2 separate regions of the Homo sapiens genome follow, and region 2 is linked to region 1. Evidence: fine-mapped QTL for protein levels in blood plasma. A gene starts in region 1. The other region holds a variant in brackets. All regions are shown on one strand. Distances are between the middles of the regions.

Region 1 (2,925 bases):
TTCCCACTCCTCCTCCAGCCAAAACTTTTGTATTCTTTTTCCTAGATGAATAACAGTTATTCCTTTTATATCCTTTTTCTAGATGATTAACAGTATCATCGTCCAAAGGCCCAAGCCTTTGAAAGTTAATAAAATTTCCTATCTCTATGCTAAACATAAACACTTAAGTGGTCATCAGGTCTTTTCAGTTTTCCTTCCTATCTTCCCTTCTGGACTACAGCAAAAGCCGGTATTTTCTGTCTTTAGTCTCCTTTCCTCCCAGGAAACCATCCTTCTTTCACACTGCAGTCAGGCTTTTCATCCTTTTTAATATGTTTTCATCATCTTTCCATTCATCTTCACGATAAAAACAATTTTTTTAGCATGGCATATGAGGTAATTCATCAATTTGCTGCTTCTTGTCTCTCAAATTTCATCTCCTACCACCTTTGGTTTTAGCCAAATGAAACCACCTATAATCTCCGAAGTTGTCACCCTCTTTTTCACCTTCATGCCTTTGTAATTCAACCTGGAATGCCCTTGCCTCAATTGTCTGTCTAGATAATTCCAACTCCATTACAATATAATATCTCTAATTCCCAAAACACTACTCCTAATCGAATTTTTTAAAAACCTAAACAACAGTTAACAGATGCTAGAATTCCAGTATAGTTTGCTGAAAACAGAATAAAATTTCTTTTGTGCTTTTATTTCTAAGGCACAGAATACATTTCTTTTTAGTCATCATTTTAGCTTTCCATTGACTACTAATGAGTCTTTGGGTGAGAAATGGAAGGTGAATTGGAACGTATCTTCTACCAGGATTTTGTAACAGATCTAGATGGCTAGGAAAACTGTGAAAGGGGAAGAGGTGCGCAGCTAGCCATTCCCCACTTTCCTCTTCTCTCTCTCTCTCTCTCTCACACACAGACACACAAACACACACACACACACACACACACACTTTTCTTAAGGGAAAAATCACTCTGTGTTCTTTTAAAATCCCTCAGGTTTTATGTTTTATTGCTACCAGAGTCTGCCTCCCTGAGGTTCTTGTATAGACTAGTTATTTCCCTCTGTAAAGAAGCTGTTCTATTCGTTCTCGCCTGGTTTGGAACAAACTGAACACTTCCAAAGGAGGCAGTCCTTGCAGCCTTGTCTCCTTCCACTCCCCTCCTCCCCACAGTCCTGGCTGGAGCAGCGAGTCTGTCGATCCCAGGCCAGAGACAAGGCAGACAAAGGTTCATTTGTAAAGAAGCTCCTTCCAGCACCTCCTCTCTTCTCCTTTTGCCCAAACTCACCCAGTGAGTGTGAGCATTTAAGAAGCATCCTCTGCCAAGACCAAAAGGAAAGAAGAAAAAGGTATGTAATTTTTTCTCTATAAAAAACATCTTATGTCAGTTGTTCTACTCCAAAGTATTACTGTAGATTAGAGCAGAAATGTATGTATGTGTTGAGTCAGAAGAGAAAGACAGAGATCCTCTGAGGAGATGATGCAGGCACTTTGAAAAATATGATGCTTCCTAGTAGAAAGGCAAATAATCAGATTAAAAAAGAACAGAAAATGTATATTTCTTGACTAGGAAAGTCATTTCATTACAGGTTTAAAAAGAGGCAGATTCTTCACTATCATTTATTTAATGCCCAAATTTACTCTGAATGTTGTCCCACACAACAGGACTTATCCCAGTCCTCAGAACTATGTGAGGATGATAAAGTATATAGGATTGTTTTAAATGCAGCAGCTATATTACCTACACTACATGAAGTTAACTGCAACATCTAAGAAAGAAAATGTTTTTTGCTTTTAAAAATCCTGATTTCTGAAAAGAACCTGGTACAAATGTGTGATACAAAGAGGGAATTCATTGAATTCATCCTTGGTGTCCATTCTTGGAACACAACAGTGTCTGTACTGCTAATATAAAGAGAACACTTTTTCCCTCTGAGACTTAGAAAAATTCCTCTTTAAAATTCCTTAACTTAATTACACAGGCTATGAAAAGCTCTCCCAAATGCTGGTCCTTTTCTCCAGTGATGATGATTTACTGTGTCCAGGAAAAGAAGGAGAATGATGCAAGACTGAATATTAATATCATCTTCTGGCATGCTCTAAAAGCCTGATCACTTTTAGGGAGGATGTGGATTTTGTTTTTCTATGGATGAAGGTATCTTAGATATTTAAGATGATATGTCTGTTTTAAGGATCTTTAAGCAGCTTATTCACTTTTTAATACTGCTTCTGTTCTTTAACACATACTTTGGGAAATTTCACTTTGGGACTCAGTCATTCTAACAAAAACATTTTCTAAGGACTCAGTCATTCTAACAAAAACGTCTTCTAAGGCAGCTAATAAGAAAAAAAGAGAACTTTAAAAAAACAGTGATTTTCATCCTCCAAGAGAGATGAGTGGAAAACATCACAGACTGGGCAGCAATTTTAATCTCTCCCAACTATAATTTTGATATTTCAAATGTCAAGTTCTGGGCTGGAGTTTTCATTTGCTTTTGCAGCTTTGCTTCTCTCTTGCTGCTTTTTTGAAAGCAATCCGAAAATGGACTGTCTTTTCTGTCTAATTCATCAACTCTGTTTCATGCCACTGCTCTTAATACCAGTTCCCAGAACTGACATCAGCTGCCTGTATGAGCATTTGCACCATAAATGTCTGAACACTTAAACTGCATGGTCCTGTTAGTTTTGGCAATTAAATGGGATAATTTTTCTTTTTAAGTCTCCATTTAGCTCCAGCCATTCAAAAGCTTGCTTGTGCTAAATGCCCTCAGACAGAATCAAAATTTGCAACTCCCTACCAAAGGATGGTAGCAATGATTTATTGTTTAGTTGGAAATGTCTTGCTCATAATCCTGTATCCTCTGCAATGATCTATTAAAACTTACAACACTATTAGGATATAAATGGTATCATACAACATTTGGAACAATGTT
Region 2 (2,925 bases), 960 kb after region 1:
GTCCTTATAAAGATCCCATATATATAGGTTTTCAGTTTTCTGTGTTGAAAGATAAACATATTTTTAAATTTTAATAGCTTTTACCAGATTATTTCCCCCAATACTAAAAATAGCATAAAACATTTGATGCTACTGATATCACATAAGTAGTAAAGTAAAAATTGTTTGGACTTCATAGTAAACCTTGTTTTTCATATATCACCTGTGTTCTCAGTCATATCTCTCACATATAAAAAGGGGCTATAATATTACTACTTTATTAGGGTATTGTAATGAATACAAGAAAGCCAAGAACAGGATTTTTTATGTATTAAGTACTAAATAAGTTTAGCTACTTAATTGTTAATATATATGGATCATAGCTGGGCGCAGTGGCTCACGCCTGCAATCCCAGCACTTTGGGAGGCCGAGGTGGGTGGATCACTTGAGGTCAGGAGATCAAGACCAGCCTGGCCAACATGGTAAAAACCCGTCTCTACTAAAAATACAATAATTAGCTGGGCATAGTGGGGCATACCTGTAATCCCATCTACTTGGGAGGCTGAGGCAGAAGAATCGCTTGAAACCAGGAGGTGGAAGTTGCAGTGAGCTGAAATCGTGCCACTGCACTCCAGCCTGGGGGACAAGAGTGAAACTCTGTCTCAAAAAAAAAAAAAAAAGAAATATATATATATATATATATATATATATATATATATATATATGTATATGGATCATTACTGGTGATTTCTCTCCTTCATGTTTGTCAATGTTTACAAGTTTCCATGTTGAACATAATATCGCTTTACAATCAGAATGAAAAAGACCAAAATATTTTTTAAAGGTAAATAAATAAGTTAGAACTTTAAAGTCACCAATAGATAAAATCCCCTTAGTCATGTTGTACTATTAGAAAACTCAGTAGCTTGCAAAGCTTCCTTGTGATATCATCTCTATTTGCTTTAATGTTATTGGTATTTTTTTCTCTCATTAAAAATACGTATGTTATTTTGAAATTCCCTGCCATCAATTGAAATAACAATTTTTGCTAGATCTTAATGG[C/A]AAATAGCACATCATACTGATATTTGCATTCCAAGTAACAAGTGCAGTGCTTAACTTACAGAAAAGCCTTGAAATATATCGGTAACTGAATGGATGGACTCATTTTCTGACTATAGTCTCACTTTAGAGTAAGCAAGGCATGAGCGGAATACGACATAAGCTGATGGGATAGAGCATTTAATTTTCTTGTTGTCCTTTCTTGTTGAGTTTAAAGGCTACAAGACTAAGAAATCCTTTTTTTATAAGAGTAAGGAATTACAAAAGTAAAAAAATTTATCTAACATACAGATTATTTCCGTAAGTATAGTCTAAATACTTATTGAGCATTATTTATAAAATTTAAGTACAAATGATTCTTGCTTTTCACATTAATATTGTTCTTACTTCTGGTTTCAATATGGTGCTGCAGAAGCAAGCTGGCTTCACTCCCCCCAGAAGAAGTGAGAAACAAATATACAGGTGATCGAGATGATCACCAGCAATATCCCAGAACTTAAATATGAGAATGAGACAGTTCCAAAGGCAACAGAGAAGTGAGAAAACTCAGAGTGGGACATAGTAGTTGTGACCTACAAAGTTGCTGTCAACACTGAATCAGTGAATACTGAGTCAATGTTCCAAGGGGAAATACAAGGTTAGGATCCTGCGACCTTTTGATCAAAACATCTTCATCAACTGATGAACACATAACCTTGTTTCATATGTGTTTAAAAATGCATTATTTAATATATATTTCTTATAAATAACTAATTATATATGGATTTTGTTGTAATAAAAACTAGCAGAGAAGGGTCTATCATTTCCCTGATGCTGGATAATGTGACTGGAAATTTCTTTGGCTTTCAGCTTTGCAACAATACTATCAACTACACTTAAAAAAAAATCAATTCTTATCTCATGAAACTACAAATTGAGCCACATTTCCACGTCTTCCCTAGCTCCCTCATACACCATACACGTTACTGTAGCACTTGCTGGGGTAGTTTCATGTACAGATTAGAAAATTTCCTCTTTCTTTTTCTGGATGTATGTATTGTTGATTCACCAACATTAAACTTAGGGACAATCATATTCTAACACATGCCTGAACGAAATTTATCTAAAACACGGATTTTTCTCTCATTAAGCCCAGCACAGCCTTCTTTGTGCTTAGGAATATAAGACAGCATTTTAGCACTCTGCTTGGAGGCCATTTTAAACAGCAAAATCATCAGCAAACAGCACAAAAATGCAAAAATGTGGTAGTAAATAAACCACATAAAGAACACTTAAGGCATGAGAGCTGAAAAAACCAGAGCAGCATCTTGTTGGGCCTCAGCTGGGTCACTGCTCTGTGCATGCTTAATTCTGTGAATGACCACGAAAGCATTGAGTATTGATTGAAATTACAGATAAATTTTAAAGAATAGGTGAATCTGGAAACATGGAATCTATGAATAATAAAGATTAACTGTCCAATATTTCTTGATTTACAGAAATAATAATAACTATAGCAATGAAAATAATATGTCACTGACTGATGGACAATATTACTGTTTGGATATCAATGAGTGTATATTTGGATATGGTAAAGGTAGTATTGAAGATAGTACCTTTAGTGAAATAGATGGATAGTTGAATAAATGACATTGGTATGTGTGTAGCCAGCTGGAGCAAAAACAAATTTGAATTCTAACATCATACCTTATATAAAAACAAATTAGGTTGGAAGAGATGTTTAATTTAATGAAGAAAACATAAAATATGAGAAAAAATTTGGAAATATTTTTGAACCTTAGAATGGGAAGTTATTTCTAAATATGACTCAACACTCTACAACTATTAAATACATTAATAAATACACAAAAAGATAAAACTTAATGAATTATAATAAGCTAACAGTAA

Alleles and levels. Positions count from the first base shown, and alleles are read on the strand shown. Strength reflects both the effect of a copy and how common the allele is.
In carriers of allele C in region 2, the plasma level of the protein whose gene starts at base 1,293 in region 1 tends to be higher than with A alone (weak association).

What was found. A credible set is the group of variants that fine-mapping cannot tell apart. PIP is the posterior inclusion probability: the model's chance that the variant is causal. The UK Biobank Pharma Proteomics Project read protein levels with antibody pairs (Olink). The fine-mapping took linkage between variants from a reference panel, not from the people measured, so its PIPs are less certain.
Region 2: its variant is the best candidate, but not a certain one, in a credible set for the plasma level of the SCRG1 protein (UK Biobank, PIP 0.72).

The regions. Positions count from the first base shown.
Region 1 is chr4:173,397,484-173,400,408 of GRCh38, reverse strand. It overlaps SCRG1 (stimulator of chondrogenesis 1), which reads left to right and starts at 1,293. Exons shown (of 3, transcript NM_007281.4): 1 at 1,293-1,341. The region is part of intron 1 of LOC112268474 (a long non-coding RNA gene); the gene reads right to left.
Region 2 is chr4:172,440,901-172,443,825 of GRCh38, reverse strand. The region is part of intron 5 of GALNTL6 (polypeptide N-acetylgalactosaminyltransferase like 6); the gene reads right to left. Among named protein-coding and RNA genes, the nearest start is that of GALNTL6-AS1, 280 kb to the left of the region's middle. The variant C/A (reference allele first, on the strand shown) is at 1,042.